Regions from separate parts of the Homo sapiens genome. Here region 2 is linked to region 1. The links come from fine-mapping of genetic effects on gene expression. A gene starts in region 1. The other region holds a variant in brackets. All regions are shown on one strand. Distances are between the middles of the regions.

Region 1 (11,480 bases):
GACCACAGCTGAGGCTGGGTTCAAGAGGCCTGGCTCCAATCGGTCAGTTCAAGTAGCCGAGGCAGGGCTGCTGGGACTCCTCTGCTGCTGCTCACACGGAGCTCAGCCCAGACCTGCAATTAGAGCTTTGCTTCAGGAGCAGAGCTGAGAAAATGGGGAGAGTTGCTAAGCAACCAAGGGGCTGCAGCCAATGGGCACCAAGGAGGCTGTGGGTTACCTCACTGGCTCCTTGCTCGCTCATTCGTTCAGAGGAGAAGGGGCATCAATTACCTGCCAAAGCCCTTGAGACTGGCTGGGCGGGTAAACTTGGGTGTATCCAAGGACACCTCACATCACCCACACACTTGCCCTGATCTGTTTCCCTTAGTCACCAACTGTCAGAGCCCACCCAGCACTTGAGCTTCAGGCTGCCAAGAGATCTGGGATTAGGTATCCACCTTAAGCTGGAAAGCCTGGGAAGCCAGGGGATAAGTATCATAATAACTCCCAACACAATAATGAAACCAAATACTGGCAACTGCCGTTTACAGAGTATATAGGAACCATGCTAAAAGCTTCACATTCTCTTATTTAATCCTCATACCGAAACAATCTTTTATTTTTTAAAATCAACCCAATATTTTATTTAAAGTTTCAAAAGGCAGTGATTAAGCACATTATCTATGTGTGTGTGTGTATCATATACATATAAATATATGTATGTATACACACACATATATATATAGGAAACCAACTCCTTTTCAAATTTAGCCACTGAACAACTAGGCCCACTTTCTATTGCATGATTCCAGTTCTACTTCTTATGACCAGTACTAAAAGTAAACAGCCTTAATCCATTTAATAGTAACTATGTTTCTCTTTAAAAAAATGAACAGTTGGCCAGGCATGGTGGCTCATACCTGTAATCCCAGCACTTTGGGAGGCGGAGGCAGATGGATCACCTGAGGTTAGGAGTTCAAGACCAGCCTGACCAACATGGCAAAACCCCGTTTCTACTAAAAATACAAAAATTAGCTGGGCGTGGTGATGCACGCCTGTAATCCCAGCTATTCTGGAGGCTGAGGCAAGAGAATCGCTTGAACCCGGGAGGCGGAGGTTGCAGTGAGCCGAGATTGTGCCACTGCACACCAGCCTGGGTGACAGAGTGAGACTCTGTCTCAAAATAAATAAATAAACAATTACCATTAACTGATCACATAAAGTATAAAGGTAGAACATATACACACAGTTCCCATTTTAAAACATGTAACGTATCAATAACCCAAAGGTACAAATGCATGCTACTGACCATCCCAACCCTAGCAGAGACCACAAAAGAACTCCCATTACTCAAGGAGTCAAAATATTCTCTACCGAACACCAGGGGCAGGACTTGTGCACATTATCCTGTTTAAACCTTTTCAACTCTGTGGGGTTGATATGATCATCCCCATTTTATTGATGAGGAAACGGAGCCTTAGGAATGGCTGATCCAAGATTTCAGATCTAATAAGTGAACCATCTGGGATTCAAACTTAGATGTGACTAATGCCAAGGCTTGAGTCATCAGCCACTCTTCCATGAAGTCTCTTTCAATGGTTTTCCCTTCCAATTCTGCCAAAGGTCCCAAAGCCCCATCTCTGAAATGTCAGCATCAGGACCTCCAGTCTCACTTCTTCTAATCCAGCTCATACCAAAAGTCTCAGTAGGCCATTTTCTCTGCTTATAATCCTTTAATATCTTTATATCGTCTTCAGGATGAAGATCAAAATCTTAAACTTGGCCAAGGTCCTGCATGATCTGGGCCCAGGTCTCCTATACCTCTGGCCCTTAAATCTTGCTGTCTAATCACATCTAATGATTTACAGATCACCAGACCCTCTGGGCTTTCACCCTTCCCTTGCTTGGGCTGGAATGTCCTCCCCATCCATCACTTCCATCTGGCTAACTCTTACACAGCTGGGTTGTCACTTCCTCTGCGAATCCTTTCACAGCCCTCAGACTCAGTGAAAGCCTCCTCTGGGTTCTTCAAGGCCCCTGCGTTCTCCATCAGAGGATTCATCATGTTGATTGTACTTGCCACTCATGTGTCCACTAGACTGTGAGCTCCTGAGACTGAAGCTAAAGCATTTGTCTCTGTGCTCCCAGAGCTCAGCACAGGGCCCAAAACAGGACATGCTCAATGAACATTTGCCAAACACTTCACTACACTCACTTCTTTAGGGCCCTTGAATATATCATGATGCTGCCCACAAGTCTTTGCACATGCTGTGGTTCCTAAAGCCTAGAACAATCCACCTTCCTCCCCCAATCCCTTCCAGCCCCACCCCTCCCAACTCAGGCAACTCCTACTTTCCTCCATTCACAAAATATCAAATGCTACCATGTGCCGAGCACAATGCGACAAAGTAAAATGACAGAGTCCCTGTCCTCACAGAGGTGAGAGAAATCATGTTATGGGCTAAGAAGGAAAAATACTGGGAGCTCTGAGGTAATATAAGAGAGAAGATCAAACTTAGCCTTAAGAATCCATGGAGGACTTCCCTATGGAAATGAAGTTTAAGCTGAGGCAAGGTGTCAAGTATATGTAATGAGCCAGAGGCTGAAAGGAACATGGGACATTCAAGGAATTAAAGAAACTGTGTGAGCGTGTAGAGAGCAAGGAGAGTAGCATGAGATGAGGCCAGTGATGCCATACTGTGCAGCACCATTATGAGTCACATTAAGGATTCTGAGCTTTAACCTAAGAGCATTGAGAAGCCACTGAAAGCTTCTGATCAGAAAGATTAGATCCCCATTTTCAAAAGATCACTGTGGCTGCTGGGACAATGAAGGGTACAAGAGTGAGGACAAGCTCTACAGTAATCTGGGGAGAGAGATGATGACAGCTTGGACTAAGGTGGTAGCAATGGAAATGGAAAAAAATAGATTTGCAATATGGTCAGGAGGGGAACAGCCAGGACTTGGTGACTAGTTGAGAGAAGGAAAAGAGAGTCAAATATTTTAATTGAATAACTGATAATTAGTTGTTTAATGTCTGCCTCCCTGTCTGAACCATGAGGACAGGGACCATGTCTTCTTTGGTTCCTTGCTGTATCTCCAGCATAGGACCAGGTATCAGTACACATTCAATTAATGTTTATTGAACAGATGGATGGATGGATGTGTGGCTGGCCAAAGAGGTTGTCTTCTGGGTGAGTGGGTACTAGCTCACCTCTGGGCATCAGGCTGTGAGATGGCATTCACAATGGCCTCCACACTGCTGTCGAAGAGCTCCGAGTCCTGCAGAGCAGCAAAGGCAGCCTGAATGAGCGCCTCACAGTCCTGCAGCGGCACCTCCAGCTGCACCCAGCTGGAGAAACACTTGAGCACCTTCTGACGCACACAGCTGGGTGAGCTGGGCTGCTGTAGCAGCTGCTCCAGCAGCGGGAAGACAGCCCCACATTCCACCGCCAGGCTGGTCCGCACCAGGCCTTTGCGGTACTGGGGTAGGCGACTGGTCTGGAACTCCTCAGGCAGCACTGTCAGCAGCTCTAACAGGGCTAGGCAGCGGCCCTGCCCATCCACTGGTGAGTCCTCAGCCTGGAAGAGTCGTACCATATCTGCCACAGCACATGGCCAAGCGTCAGGCATCATGCTGAGAGCCAGTGAGGCCAGTGCCACGCACAGCCGAGTCAGTACAATCTTGGAGCCACTGGCAAAGCGGGTGATCTGGGTGAAGAGCTGTGCCTTTAGGCTTTCATACTGGTCAGTGGGGATGTCACTCCAGTAGCGAGAGATCTTGATGTGAAGAGCACTGGCCCCAAAGTACTGGATCTCTGGTACCTTGTCGGGCTGCAGTAGCTGCCAGCTGAAGTGCCAGGCCTGTGGGGAGACCTGGGCCTGCATCAGCCACTTCTGAGCCAGGTTCTTATTCTCAATGTTGGGATCATAGTAGAGCTGGTGCAGCGCCTGCAGGACAGCACAGGACTGAGCAGGTGCTGGCCACTCTGGATCCTGCCAGAGCCCAGAACAGAGGCGTGACTTGGTCCTGCAAGGCTGCTCCCTCTCCCTGACTGGGGGGCTGAGCAGGGAGAGCTCAGCGCTCTGCAGTGTTTCCTGGGCCTGGGGTCCTGCTGATATCTTGAGAGCCTGAACCTTGCCCATGCTCTACCATATCCTCTTCTCCTTACAGCAAAACATTATGGGTTCAGAGAGGGAATCTCCACAGGAAAGCAAAAAAGAGGAGGCTGATCTCCCCAAAGGGGAGGCACTTGAGGGCAAGGCCCAGGTGGAAGGAACAGCTTCACAGGGATGAAGCTAAGTCTGAGAAGGGCATGGAACAGCTTGAGGGGACTTGACCCTCCCAGGCACAGCTGCTCCCATCAACTCCAACAGCTCCTTTCAGCTCCCCCAGGATCATCCCTAGGTCAGTCCAGATGCTGGCACCAAAGCCAGTGTGAAATCAGAGCAGGACTAAGACTTTTGCCAGGCAGCCCTGGGGCAGACATGCTGGAGGAGAGGGTGAGAACACTCCTCAGAGGGCACATGTCCAACCAATTGATCCAGAGAAGCCTTGGCCATAGCTGCAGCCCTGGCAAACACCTAGCTTAGTGCTCTCCACTAGCAGAATCCCCGGGGTCTCAATTCCAACGGGACTTTATGAAGTAAGAAAACAGTGAGATTTATCTCCCAATAGCACATGGAACAGTGCGCCACCATGCCAACACTGCCCTGCTCCAAGGGGCGGAAGAGTATGGCCAGGACCCTGACCCCTAAGCAGGCTCCATCCAAGTAAGCTTAGCTCTATTTGTACCCCTGACAGCCAGTTATGGCCATTGGCCCTTGTTTGGCCCCTCAGGGACGCCAAAGCAGGCAGAAGAGATGCATCCTCATTGTTTGTTATGGCAAACGGGGGTTAAGGATAACAAGTGAACATCATTCCCTGCTTTCAAGTAAGGGAGCCCCATCTCCCCATTCATCCCAGGGTGCATGCATTCCTGCATTTCAAGTTGTAGGGAGCAGATACAGAAAAGAACCAAAGAGGCAGTTCAGAAAGATGGGCTGGGCAGTCGGGGAGCCTGGGAGGGCCATGGCAGGGAGCTATGTGGGCAGGCGAGTAGGGAGGAGCCCTGTAAGGCTCCCAGCAGGGCCAGGACCCTTGGACTCAGCACAAAACAAAGGGAGACAGCCCCAGGCCTGCCTGCTCAGGACTGGTCTGGCTTCCATCCAATAAAGGAAGGACCCTTCTCCAAAGAGTCAAAACAACCCAGATTGTTTTAGTTCCAGATTATTTTCTGAGCCCTTGGCTCAACAAAACCAGGTCCAGGATGGTTTGGCATCAGTATAATTCCAGGAGACTGAGCTGCAGGTCTCCTGGGTTCCCAGTTTCCTACTGCACTGCTCATGCAGTTCCCATGGAGCTGGAACATAGCCAGTCTGGACGGAAGGCTAAGTCACAGCACCCTGAAGGGACCATCCCAAGACCCTAGAGTATCTATCCACAGGGGACCTGCCTGTAAGGAAAGACAAAAATAGCCCATTAGGGCACTGCAATACTGCCTGCCCAGAAAGAGAGCAAATGCCAGGTGCTCTGGGGGCACCATACCAGCGGGCACCCAGCCCAGGCCTGAGCTCTGCCATCAGTGACAGTCCCCAGAACTTCTGCTCTGTCACTGGAGTGCCCACCCCAGAGCCCTCATACCTTCTCCACGTTCTCCACAGTGAAGTCCAAGGCTGGTGCTGCTCCAGCCCCTGCAGCCCCCGGCTGCTCCTCCCGCCGCTCCATCTTTGCTCCCTCCCTGGCAGGGAGGTGGGCCCTGATCTGTCTCCTGCCCCAGCCCCTTGGCTGCTGGCCCCCTGCTAGACCCCGGCTTGGGTGCCCAGGGAGTGGTGGGGTGAGGGGGGGCCCAGGGCGGGCATGGCTGCCGAGGCCTCCCCACCTCGTTTGGGGGTGGGAGGCTTGCCAGAGACCAAAATTGGTGCTCTTAGGAGACCCAATGAAGGGGACTCCGAGGAGGGAGCCGTCAGTGAGGAGCTCTCAGGCGGGGATCCTAGTGGCAGGTAACAGCTCTGTCCCCAGAATCTGTGTGGAGGGAGTCACAGGGGAGGGAGGCCTGCGGGGGAAACCGAGTCCCTGGCTCTTGAGGGGTCACAGGGTCGATGGCCTGTACCCACAACACCCCCGCCTGGGTGAGCTCTCGGCTGCTATGAACAGGTCATGGGGCTGGAGGGTCACGGGAGAGAGAGAGCCCTTCGTGGTTACGGAGGCGTCCAACGAAGCGCGGAGATGCAGCTCCGCTAGTCTAGGGCGAAGAGTCCGTGGAGTTGAGGGGCTGTGGCAGGTCCCTTCCGTTCGGCCTGGCCCGCGCTGTGCTCAACGCCCGGCTACAGCCCCGCTACAGCCGCTGCCTCCGCCCCAGTGACTGACAAGACAAGCCAGGCCGGCCGGGACGGGGCAGGGACCTCGGCAAGGCGCGGGCTGCCCCGAGCGCCTGTCCCCGGCACCTCCAACTCAGGCCCCCACTCCTGCCAGTTCTGGCTCGGCACGGCCCGGTACAGGCCGGCACGGCCCAGCGGAACTGCGCGGAAACTCATTCCGGGTCCTTAGCCCTGTCCTCGCGCCAGCTCGCACTCCCCTGAGCAGGCGGTGGAGCGGCTCGCCGCCCCAGGCCGCGGCCGAGTCTAGGCCCCGCCGCTGTTCACCCTGGGAAATGTAGTCCGTGTTGCGCCTAGCCGGAAGGCGGCGCCCTGCGGAGGAGGCCGGGAGCACGTGGGTTGGGGACCTGCAGAGCCCCGCCTGTCCTCGGCCTACCGCGGCGAGCAGGCATTCCGGGTCAGACCGGCGCGGGGCGCTGCGGCCCAACTCCTTAGTAGGACGACGTGACTCGAGGGGCCGGAGGACGGAGGTGGGAGCCCGGGCTAGAGGGTGGAGGCTGGGGAGGTTGCCTGGTCACTCTGGCGCTCCGCTGCCGGGGGCATCCTCCGGCCCAGCAAAGGTGCAGCCTGGGAAGAAGGCGTCAGCACCACCCAGAGAAGAGGAGAGGGGACTTGGCACGCCTCAGGAAGGAAAAAAGGAAGGCTCTCGGGACCACCCAATAAGCAACCGGGAAACCACATACCATGGACAGTGCTCGGGGAATTTCGTAAGGTTTTTGGAAGTAACTTTATGTGTAACTAGAGTAAGAGTAGCTTACATTTAAGTGCTAGGAGCAGGACTTTGCTTACCTTAGGTTCAGTTTTCTTAATAGCTCTGAGGTGGATATTTTTATTCATCATTTTCAGATGAGATGAGGAAATCGAGCTTGGGGAAAGTTAGGCTTATCTTGCCCCTGGCACACAGACAGGGTGGCAGACCATGCCATAGATCTGGTCTGCCACAGGCCCCGGTAGTTCCTGCCTGTCACCCCTCCAGTTGTATTTTATTGTTTATTAACTCCTGCCAGCTACCCTAGCAGGGAAGAGGAAAAAATTAAAAGTGCAAAGAGCTCCGTAGTTTTGTTCAAATGGAGGAAGCTGGCATTGGAAGCTGGCATTGGCAGCAGCTGCTGAGGCCTGAGAAGGTCCATGAAGGCTTCCCTGAGAAGAGAAACTTGATCTGAGCTTGAAGAATAGAGAGCCTGGGAAGGAGAGGGGCCCATTTAGCTGGTAAGCAAAATCCAGTAGGACTCTAAGTCATTCAGCAAGTCTTCATCAATAAAGAATAGCAAGTAGGCCGGGCGCGGTGGCTCACGCCTGTAATCCCAGCACTATGGGAGGCTGAGGCGGGCGGATCACGAGGTCAGGAGATCGAGACCATCCTGGCTAACACGGTGAAACCCCGTCTCTACTAAAAATACAAAAAATTAGCCGGGCATGGTGGCAGGCACCTGTAGTCCCAGCTATTCGGGAGGCTGAGGCAGGAGAATGGCTTGAACACGGGAGGTGGAGCTTGCAGTGAGCTGAGATCACGCCACTGCACTCCAGCCTGGGCGACAGAGTGAGACTCCGTCTAAAAAAAAAAAAGAAAAGAAAAGAAAGAATAGTAAGTAATTTATATTCATTTTAAGAGAATATATGTGGGGTGGGGAAGGGGAAGGGTATGAGTAACAGAGATGAGGTTGGAAAGACAAGTTGGTGGCAATAGATTCTTGTAGGAGTTTGGACATTATCCTAAGTGCAATATGAAACCATGATGGGGTTTCAAGTGAGCAATGATGATTACATTTGCATTTTAGAAAAATCTGCAACATGAAAGACAAATTGAAGGAAGAAAGAGAGGCAGGAGACATTTGGAAGGAGGAAATAGAAAGCCAAAATAAAGTAACTGATTCCAGGCCTGTGCCTAGGGTGTGAAATACCTTGGGCCTGGTGCTGGCTGGCGGTTTCACTGGTGGAGGTGGTGGTGGGCAGGGGAGATGGTGTTGGGAGTGGGGTTTAAATGCACAAATTCTGGACTTAGTCCTGAGTTCAAAACCTGTTTATGCCTCTTTCTAGCAATGAGACCTTAGCTTCTTCTGAAACTCATTTTAGTTAAGGGGTTTTAGGGGTGGGGGGCTCAGCCCAGAGACCACAACTTAGTCAGTATGTGTTTTCTTCCTGCTTCCCATCCAGGGCTCCTCCTCATCCCTGGAGGTTCCAGGGATCTGGCAGAGAAAGAAGCCCAGTCTCACAGCAATGACTCCTGAACATCCTTTGCAAACACTATTTAGGACAGATGGACTGAAGTAGGCCCTGGGGAGAGTTGGGGGCATTTCCGGAGGCCAGACCAAAGGTGATCTCCAGGAGATTTGGATGTTAGTGCAGGATAGCTCAGAGCCAAGTGGCAGATAAGTCTTTGGGAGCCAGAAGGGCTCTTTCTTCTCTAAGGAACAAGTGTAGACCTATAGGGGCAAGAACCTGTGGCAACCCTGGGAGAGGTCTGCAGATTCAGGAGGGAACATCCCAAAACTCAGCAGAGGAGGAGAGGGAGCTTTTGTTGGTCACCTGGAACCACTACCAATCCATGTTCATGTCAAATTAAATGATCACTTTGAAGTTTTTCAGCCTACCAAAATCATGTGAATTTGGTCTGCAAAACCAGACGACTGCCTGCTTGCAGTTAAGAATTCTCAGCGGGAGGCCGGGCGCAGTGGCTCATGCCACCAGCACTTTGGGAGGCTGAGGTGGGTGGATCACGAGGTCAGGAGTTCGAGACCAGCCTGGCTAACACGGTGAAACCCTGTCTCTACTAAAAATACAAAAGTTAGCCTGGTGTGGTGGCGGGCACCTGTAGTCCCGGCTACTTGGGAAGCTGAGGCAGGAGAATCTCTTGGACCTGGAAGGTGGAGGTTGCAGTGAGCTGAGATCGCGCCATTGCACTCCAGCCTGGGCAACAGAGCGAGACTCTGTCTCAAAAAAAAAAAAAAAAGAAGAAGAAGAAAAAAAAGAATTCTCAGGGGGAGATTATTCCCCTTTCTTAGTACCAAGGTTGGATGTAGGCAGTTTTCTTTGTAGTCCCCTGGTTTGAGGGAGAGAGGTTAGGTCAGACAGGGGCAGGTTTCTTTCTAATTCACCTTCACAGTGTAGGCATACACTGGCCTTTGAGGTCCTGGCCTTATGGAGAAGTTTCTAAATAGACTCCCCATGGTGAGGGGGCCCTGGGCTTTGTCTTTCTCATAAGCCCAGAGACCCCTTGAAAACCAATGATCAGGTTCTCTGGGTTCGGCAACTGCCCTCAAGATGAAAGCCAATGACAGAGCTTTGCTTACCTTTGTAGCTTCTTGCTTTCATTTACTTTTTTGGCCTCAGTGTGTTTCTTACATTTTTGCTAGCTTATGGATGCATTTAATTTTAAAGATAGATAGAGTCTAGTATTTAAAGTTGTTTTCAGGAGGAAGTTTAGCCCAAGTCCTTAGGCCACCATGTTGCAAGAAAACCTAACGGGCAGTTTTCGGTTCTGATGCAGCTTGATTTTTGTGCTGCATCTGGCCCTATTGACCAGTCCCTCAGCTCTTCTGTTTGGTTTTGTTTTTCCCGACACTCTGACTACTCCTTTTTGGTTTCCTTCACTGGCCCATCCCTGTTCCTCCACCTGTTCCTTAAATGTTGGTCCTCCTTAGTCTCCGCTTCTTGTCTTATGCCTCATTATCTCACCACTCCCCTGGCTTCAAGCTGTGACTCCTTGGATTTCTCCAGCCCAGACTGTCCTGGGTTTCAAACCTGCATATTTAGCTGCCTCCTGGCCCTCTGAAGTTGCCACAGGCACCCAAAGTTGAACATGTACAAAACTGAACTCACATTTTCCCCACATCTTACCCCTATCACATGCTAAAATACTACATCCCCTGTGTTCTGTACCAGTCCCCCAAGCTAGACACCTGGAAACCATCTCTCATCCAGCCCTCACCTCTCTTATTGTCCCTCACATCTCTTCTGTCCTTGCACATTTGCTTCTGCCCTAACTCAAGGTACCTGTGCTTGTTGCCTGAACGGCTCTAACTATGGCAGCTCTAGCTGGCACCCACCTTGCCTCTTCCATCCATACTAGACACAGTAGCAAGTGATCCATCTGAAACACATCTCTAACCAAGCCCACTTAAAACCCTTTAGTGGCTCCTTTCAGAGCGAAGGCTGAGCTTCTCGGTATAACATTCAAAGCCCTTTGTGACCTCTCCAGTCTTTTGTCTTGATGAGGACCCTCCCCAAGTCCACCTGAAGTTGCTGGCAATCCTGGGAGCGCACCAGGCTGTTTCACACTTCCCTGTCTTTGTTCATGCTACTTCCTCTGTTGAGAAGGCTCTGTGTCATTCTGGATGCCATCAGGAGAGAGACATCACACAGTCAGCAGGCAGGGAAAGTTCAACATAAGCATTTTGAAGTGTAACAGGGAATTGAAGCTGTGATGAACTGGCTAGTAAGAAGTAAATAAATAAATAAATAAACAAATAAAAATCTAAAGAATATAGGACTAGCAGAGTCTTCAGGCTGAGATGGAGAGCCCAAGGAAGAGGCCCTCACCTCTCCACTCCATTCCTGTCCAGGGCTGAGAACCACACCGTGCAGGACAGGACATGGCCACAATGAACAGTGTACATTTAGAAGTGAGAGGAAATAAAGGCAATCAGCAATAACCAGTTCGGGTTCCATGCCTCTCATCCACCCTATAATCCACCCTGTGCAAACAAACTCATTTTTCAAGACTCAGTTCAAATACCACCTTTTCCACAAAGACTTTTCCTCTTCTGCGTCTATCCAGGAAAAAACTGATTCCTCTTCCTTTGTGATTGTAGAATCTGCCCCCTCCTTGACACACATACCTATAACCTCAGTCATACTTCTACTGGGGTACTTGTTTACCCCTACCTAGGGTTGCCAGAAAAAAATCAGGACACTTATTTATTTTTTTTTTTTTTGAGATGGAGTCTTGCTCTGTCACCCAGGCTAGAGTTCAGTGTCACGGCTCACTGCAACCTCTGCCTCCCAGGTTCAAGCAATTCTTCTGCCTCCTGAGTAACTGGGACTACAGGTGTGCACCACCATCCCCGGCTAATTTTGTATTTTTA
Region 2 (8,000 bases), 150 kb after region 1:
AGGAGTTAAAGACCAGCCTGACCAACACGGTGAAACCCCGTTTCTACTAAAAATACAAAAATTAGCCGGGTGTGGTGGTGCGTGCCTGTAATCCCAGCTACTCAGAAGGCTGAGGCAGGAGAACTGCCTGAACCCAGGAGGTGGAGGTTACCGTGAGCCGAGATCGCACCACTGCACTTCAGCCTCGGTGACAGTGTGAGACTCCGTCAAAAAAGAAAAGAAAAAAAAGAAGAGCGTTCCTTGTCCTCCCTATGTAGACCTCACCCTTCAAATGCTCCTGTGCCACAGTGTACTTTCTCCAGTTTGTGATTATACATTTACCGACAGACGCCTCTCCTCTGCTAGTCTAGAAGTTCCACTAAGACTCTTCTTTTCCTCACAGGTGCATCACCTAACACTATGCTTGGCATGTGGAAGGAATGTTGAACGAACAACATCTTCTCTGATCTAACTTGTTAGCCTAAATGCACCTTATCTGTGCTCTCCAGCCCTTCCAGAACTTATTCATGAACCTGCAATGCACATCTGTTGTTTCTGTCCTTTTAGAAACAAGCCCCTTGGGTTTCCTTCAGGGAACTGCTCTTCTCCCATTGCAGGCAAGTGGTGAGACTGTCGATGGGATTTATGTCCAAAGTGTAGGCACCTGACAAAAGCTAGGTTAGTGGGACAATTTCTTCCCTAAACTCAGCGACACGAGGGAGAAAAATAATGTGCTGAAGAGGGGGACCACTTGTTCCTGCAACCTAGATTCCTGGGGCTGCCCTTCATGTTCTTTCTGAGGGCTCGATGTTTAGCTTCCAATTGGATTCTGTGGGTACCCATGTCCTTCTGGTAAATTCCTTTTTAAAAACAGTTATCCCCAGTCAGTTTTTGTTGCTTTCAATTAAACTATCCTAGCTTACATGTATTTGGGTTCTCATAAAGGGCAGGGCTCACCTCTGCACCCAATATCACATCTGGCACAGAGTTGGTATTCCATAATGTACTGAATGGATGGAAGAGTGGAAAGAGTGACCAAATAAGCAAGGCAGCCTAGTAAGTGCCCTGAGACCTGGAGTCTTTGTCTTCCTCCACCCCTTGCAGTGAGGGGGCAGTGCTGGTGGTAGCAGTGATGGCAGCAGCAGGGGCTTCCTCTCCCTCTCCTTCTCCCTCGCCTGCCATCTTCGACTGCAGTGATTCCCTTGCTCTGGCCCTTCCTGGCTCCCAGCCTATCTGATTACATCACTGTCACCTGCCCACAGCGAGCCTCCTCTGGCTCTTCTTAGGCGCAACTAACTGTCTGCCACACTGTTTATTTAATGCCCTTCACACCTTCTATTTTCTGAGTTTTGCTTTGGGGTTCCCTTTTAAGAACTCCCAGTTTGCCAAGGTAGTTCCCTCCCATCATGTATAAAGGCCTGAAATTTAACCCTCTCCACAAAGACTTCCTGAGTCACCTGAGTCACTGGCGTCTGTCTGCTCCATCTCAACCAAGGTCTTTACCTGACAAGCACTTTACTCTCAGCCCCAGCCTCATAGTCATGTTACTGATTATTCAGTCTGTGTGTGGCCCCTCACAGAGTTCCCTGACTAGCAGGAAAATTTAAGCATCATCTTTAGGAAGTGTAAATGAGAAAAGAAAGCAATCAGGAAGGCATAGGCATTATACTCCAGGAATACAGGAGCAGAGCTTCTCTACTGCTGGGGTTGGGCAAGGTTACAGATCCCAGCGCATCTCCTTTATACAAATGTGTTCTTAGAGTTGCATGTGAATTTGCCTTATACAGAGGAACTGCTATTTTGAGTGTACCAACACTTCAGGGACTATTCACCTCTCGGGTAGTGGCATGAAAGTCTGGGTCTCACCAGCAGCCCAATGATCCCAGATCTGTACAAAGAACAGAACACTCTAGGAATCCCAGGCCAGCCAGGCACAATATGCACTCATATTCCAGCTCTCCTAGCACCTGAAGATACTCTCCTCCCCAGGTATGAAAGCAGAAAGCCAGCAGAAGTGTTTAGTCTGATGGCTTAGGCTTCCTGCTTTGGCCAGGCTGGAAAGCCCAGGATTACAAAAATCACTGACCAAGGAGCACGTGTGTCTCTGCCCAGCTCCAGGTGGGGAGTGACATGGCTGATGCAAATCCCTGACCTTCCCCTCCTGCACGTGCACCAAGTCAGAGCTGTGAATGCACAAAGTGCTTTTTCAGACGTCTTTGAAATTAACCATTAACTCTTCCATTGCCGCCTTAAAGGAATAAGTCAGTCTAGATGTCATAGCAAAAGATTCATATAACTTGTTGGATGAACACTGGAACACTGATGTAAACTCTTAAAAGGTTCAGAAACTGGACATAAACAAAAGGATCCCATGCATTAAAGTGTGAATACATGTAATAATGAAACCTTGTTACATATAAAGCAAAATTAACAGAACTAAAAGAAAATGACACCGTTGGTCTACCATCATAAACCACTGAAAAATCGGGCTCACAAAGTCTGTGAGAATTCAGAAGATTTGAACAGAACAATTACTAAATTTAAACTAACAGACATACAGAGAACCTTACATCCAACAAATGGTGAATGCACATTCCTTTTTTTTTTTTTTGAGGTGGGATCTTGCTATGCTGCCCAGGCTGGATTCAAACTGCTGGGCCCAAGTGATCCTCCCACCTCAGCCCGAGTAACTGGGACTCTAGGTGCGTACCACTGTGCCCGGCCTACAAGACATGTAGGGAGCATTTACAAAACCCGACCAGGCTAAGCATGGTGGCTCATGCCTGTAATTCCAGCATTTTGGGAGGCCAACGCGGGCGGATCACAAGGTCAGGAGTTCAAGACCAGCCTGGCCAATACAGTGAAACCCCGTCTCTACTAAAAATACAAAAATTAGCCAGGTGTGGTGGCACGTGCCTGTAGTCCCAGCTACTTGGGAGGCTGAGGCAGGAGAATCATTTGAACCCGGGAGGTGGAGGCTGCAGTGAGCCGAGATGGCGCCATTGCACTGGGCGACAGAGTGAGACTCTGTCTCAAAAACAAAAACAAAACAAAACAAAAACCAACCAACTGTGAGGCCATAACATAGGGTCAGCCTCCAACTCTTAATTTAAAATTTAAGTATTGAGAAGCTATTGCATGGAATAACATTTTATTGCCGGCAACAAAATACTGTCAGTTATTTCCCTTGAAGTGATAATGCTCACTTTCATTACTGAGAAAATGTCTGCCAAATTCCAAAGTCTGAAAAAACCACAGTCTGTCAATTGTACTTTCAAGTAAAAATTATGTTCCATGAAAAATGTTGCATGAAAAACTCATGGAGCAGAGTGTTGCCCAAGAGGCTGCTGGTCAGTGGCAGGCCAGCCAGGTGGGGACTCCCAGGGGAGCACAGCTCCAGGTGAAGGGCAACACACCTGTTCTCACATATTGGGTAGTATCGCTGCTTATGTGCATTGAATGTAGCCTTTTATGATCTCCAACCAACTCCAGGGTGACTGCTCTAAGAATTCATATACATTTTGCAACAGAGCTTCACGCTATTTTGAAATACCTGATACAAAAAAGTGAGATTAGATTTGAAATCCATTTGTTCTAACTGAAGAAATTTCAACCTTACAATTTTGATTAAGGAAAAGGAAGAACTGTTGGATTTTTAAAATATAATTTCAACTGCTGTAAACATCTGAATAAGTATAAAAATGATTTTATATTTTTGTCAGTTATTTGTGTGAGTTTTTGATGATAACTGAGTATTTTTTAAGAGAGTATCATTAAAAAGCCTTGACAGGAGTTATGTGAAGCCTTCCCAGACAAAACTCCTGAATAAAAATTTATGAACACCGAAACAAGCTCTAGTTTTTAATTAAAAACTTGAAAAGATTTTTATGGTATAGCAATTCAATATTTAATAAATTTCTTAATACTTTGTGTTTCATTTTGCTCATCATAGTTCTTTTTGGTTTGTTTGTTTGTTTGTTTGTTTGACACAGGGTCTCACTCTGTCACCCAGGCTGGAGTGCAGTGGTGCAAACTCGGATCGTCCCACTCTTGACCTCCTGGGCTCAGGTGACCCTCCCATCTCAGCCTCCTGAGTAGTTTGGACTAAAGGCGCAATGCTGCTGGGACTAGAGGTGCAATGCTGCTGGGACTATAGGTGCAATGCCACCACGCCTGGCTAATTTTTTATTTTTTTGTAGAGACAGGTTTCACCATGTTGCCCAGACTGGTCTCAAACTCCTGGGCTCAACTGA[T/C]CCTCCTGCTTTGGCCTCCCAAAGTGCTGGGATTACAGGTGTGAGCCACCATACCTGGCCTGTTCATCACAGTTCTGTAATATTAAAAAAAAAAAAAAATCACAAATGTTTTCACAATGCCCTATGTAGACAACTCCAAGTCCTCTCCTATTTGTCCTAGTATAGCACATAAGTATTACTTCCTACCTACATTCTGACGTGCAGTTGGGAGCACCAGGCTGTGCAGTCACATCCTGTTCCAGGACAAAAGAGAGAGCTTCTTGAAGGTTCCTGAAGCCAGGTGTCCTACTGTAGCCTCACCTTCAGGCTACTGAGCCCCAGAATGGAATTTCAAGGAATACGGTTGTACATGATGAGCCTAACATGCTACTGGCATTTCCGTTGTGAGTGACCCACTTCCTTTTTTCATTGTAATGAACCACCACAAATTCCAATCAGCTGTCACTGTACCTGGCACAAAGAAGATGCTTATTAAATGACTGCTACTGATGACAACCACAAATATTGCCCATGAACACCAATTTAAGGAGCATTATTGAGGTATATAAAGTTTGGTATTTTATGGGATAAAAACATGAACTTGGTTCTATCAGAAATTGCCGTGCTTCGAATTATAATTCACAAAGCCACATAGGCAGGATAGTCCATGAGGCAAGAAAACTCCATTTACCCAGAGAAGCAGCTCTGCTGCCAGATCTTCTTTAAAGTGGTCTTTGGCTCCAATCTCTGGGCTATGATGAATTGCTAAGTACGAAGGGAATGGCAGTAAATGGAATGAGGACCTACCCTAGCCAAAACAGCTCTATCATTTCTTAAGAAATGTCACTGTACAATCTCTAAAAAAAAGTCATGGGGTATATTAAACATATGTAATATATGCCATGGCTTGGGTGGAGGAAGAAGTTGGCAATAGTTCCAAATGGGCTGTCAGGCTTGCAGAATGAAGGGACTGAGAGGAACTACTATTTATTGAGCATCTTCCTTTGTATTCATGCTGTTCTCAGTACTGTCACCTATACAGCCCCATGAGGCAGGTACTATATTTTACAGATGAGGAAAGAGAGGTTTAGACAGGGGAGATATGTTCAAGATCCCCCAATCATGAAGTAGGCTAGCAGGGATGCCGTGGAACCAACCCAGGGCTGATTCTTTCCTTTACGTTATGCCCACAATGACTCTCAGAGGAAACAAGAAAAGCAGACCCTCACATTAGCAGCACAGTTTCCATGACAGCAATGATGTACTATTACCTCCCATCTCCTGCCCCAGGGTGATGTCAGAAGGCCCTGGCCATACCACACATGAATCATGGGAGTCAAAAGAGGCCTGAGAAGGTCTGGCCAAAGTGCAAATAGCTCCCACATCATCTCAAGTCAGGGAAATAAACCACAACATGGGATCAATTAATCAAAGAGAAACTAAAAGGAAAAGCATTTTTCTAAAATAAACACAGAAAAGCCCACTGACCTAGACTAAATTAACTGATTCAGTAAAATAACTTAGAAGTTTACAAACTAAGATCCAATCTCAAATGGGTGTATGTTGGTGTGGGGGAGGTGAGAGGCCTAGTAGGAAGCTTCTGGTAACAGAGTCCCCTGTGACTATCAGGCCTCCATCTGAGCACAGCACAGCTCTTCTCCAACGTGGCATACTGGGGGCCAAGGGAGCATGACATGTCCTTGGCCCCAGGTAAGAGAATCACAGGCTACAGAAGGAGCCCTGGAAGCCCCCTCCCACAGCAGCCAAAAATGTCACTGCACCCATCTATCTCTCTTCTGTCTTGGGAAAATAGCAGATATCTAGGGCTGAGTACTGCAGTGAATTTAATCCTATTCACAGCATCAACTGTGTCCGGGCCATCCCAGGGCATCTTGCACTAAGCTGCAGGAGGATTAGGAGGGACAGCATGTCAAAACAGCTGCTGGTACAGGAAATGGGAAAAAATGGCTCACTCTGCAGTTTGTATCTTAAACTTCATGGAGCTTACCACCTCATGGGATAGATAGGGCATAAATACTCACTGAAATGGTCTGAATGTTGGGTGTCCCCTGTGAATTCATGTGCTGGAACCTGATATCCAATGTGATAGTATTAAGAGGTAGGGCCTTTAGAAGGTAATTAGGTCATGAGGGCTCCACCCCTAGGATGGGATTGATATTTTTATCAGGGAGGGCTGAGGGAGCCTATTTGCCTCTTCTGTCTTGTTAGGACACACACAGAAGGTTCCATCTATGAGGAATGGACCCTTTCCAAACACTGAATCTGCTGATGTCTTGATCTTGGACTTCCCAGCCTTCAGAACTGTGAGCAATAAATTTCTGTTGTTTATAAATTACCCAGTCTAAGGTATTTTTGTTATAGCAGCCCAAAGAGACTACGACAATCACAAAGCAATTATTAAACAAAATAAGAGAGAGCTCTACTCCCCAAACAAAAATAACTTAATTTTTTCCCAGTTATTAAAATAACATATGCTCAATACAAAAATCCAAATCCAAAACACTTATAAAGAATGAAGTAAGAACCATTTGAAACCCCTATTTACCTAGGGCTAACTGCTACAAATATTTTGGTGACTATTTTCCCAGAAATCTCTTTCCATAAATACTGTATATGTATGAACGTACATACATAATTTTACCTACACTTGGCCTTAATATGCATGCTGTTTGTTTGTTTTGTTCACTCAACAATATCCTCGACATCGTCTGTGTCAATAAAAGTAAAACTGCATCATCATTTTAAATGACTGCAGTTACTCCAATGAATGGATATGCCATTATTTATTTGACCTCAAGCACTCCTTAATTAGTGAATATTGTTGTTCCTAATTTTCTATTCTTTAACACCTATTTATTTAACACCTACTTAGCACCTATTATGTGCCAGACGCATTCTAAATACCGGCGATACAGTGATGAACAAAACAGACCAAGTCCTTGGCCAAAATGAAGCCTACATTTTAGTAGGGGAGATTGACAGTGTGCAAGTAAATAAGCAAATAGTTTGAAGGAAGGAGGCATGCTAAGAAAAACTGAAGACATACTTTTTTAGAGAAGGACTGGTTAGAGGAGTGGACTACTTTAGATGAAGTGGTCTGGGAAGACCTTCTGGCGGAGGTGACAGTGGGACAGAGGCCTGAAGACAGCAACGCAAAGCAGGAGGTAAGAACAGTCTAGGAAGTGGGAACAGCAAGCACAAAGACCCTGAGGCAGGAAAGGACCTGACATCCTCAAGGAGCCACAGGCATGCCAATGTAGCGTGAGGGCAGTGGGCTGAAGGCAAATGAACTACAGGGAAATTGGAGAGGTTAAGTAGGACTCAGGAAGGAGGGACAAGTTTGGATTTTATTGTAAATGTACTGTAAGGTCACTGGAGAGGCTTCAGTGGTAACAAGACAGGATCCGATTTAGGTTTCTGGAAGATTACTCTGGCTACAAGGTACAGAAGGCAATAAGTGGCACAGACAGGCCAGTCAGGAGATGTTTCTAGTCTAGGGAAGAGAAGATGGTACCTTGGGCAGTGGTGCTAGAAAGAAGCGGCTAGAGAAGAACACATTGTGAAGACAGGAAAGGGGGAGAGGGTAAAGGAAGAGGAACAATCAGGGTGATTCTAGGTTTGCAGCCTGAACTTTCAGTTGGGTAGATGGGGAAGAAAAAGTGGGAGAGGAACTAGTTTCAGCATACAGCTCCTATATATGTTTCATCAGATTTATATATAAGCATTTACACATAAGTATTTGGTTTCGGGAAGCTGCTATGTGTTTTA

Alleles and levels. Positions count from the first base shown, and alleles are read on the strand shown. Sizes are in standard deviations (SD) of each study's normalised expression.
With allele C in place of T in region 2, the expression in lymphoblastoid cells of the gene that starts at base 6,397 in region 1 is lower (large effect, 0.84 SD a copy in GENCORD).

Evidence for each region.
Region 2: its variant is fine-mapped to the expression of IPO13 in lymphoblastoid cells (GENCORD, PIP 0.95).

The regions. Positions count from the first base shown.
Region 1 is chr1:43,941,867-43,953,346 of GRCh38, reverse strand. It overlaps IPO13 (importin 13), which reads right to left and starts at 6,397. Exons shown (of 20, transcript NM_014652.4): 1 at 5,663-6,397; 2 at 3,194-3,930. The coding sequence starts at 5,746. LOC101929609 (a long non-coding RNA gene) reads left to right here and starts at 6,748. Exons shown (of 2, transcript NR_188535.1): 1 at 6,748-6,866; 2 at 8,551-8,992. RefSeq lists a silencer at 6,352-6,601.
Region 2 is chr1:43,797,964-43,805,963 of GRCh38, reverse strand. The region is part of intron 3 of ST3GAL3 (ST3 beta-galactoside alpha-2,3-sialyltransferase 3); the gene reads right to left. Among named protein-coding and RNA genes, the nearest start is that of MIR6079, 37 kb to the left of the region's middle. The variant T/C (reference allele first, on the strand shown) is at 4,233.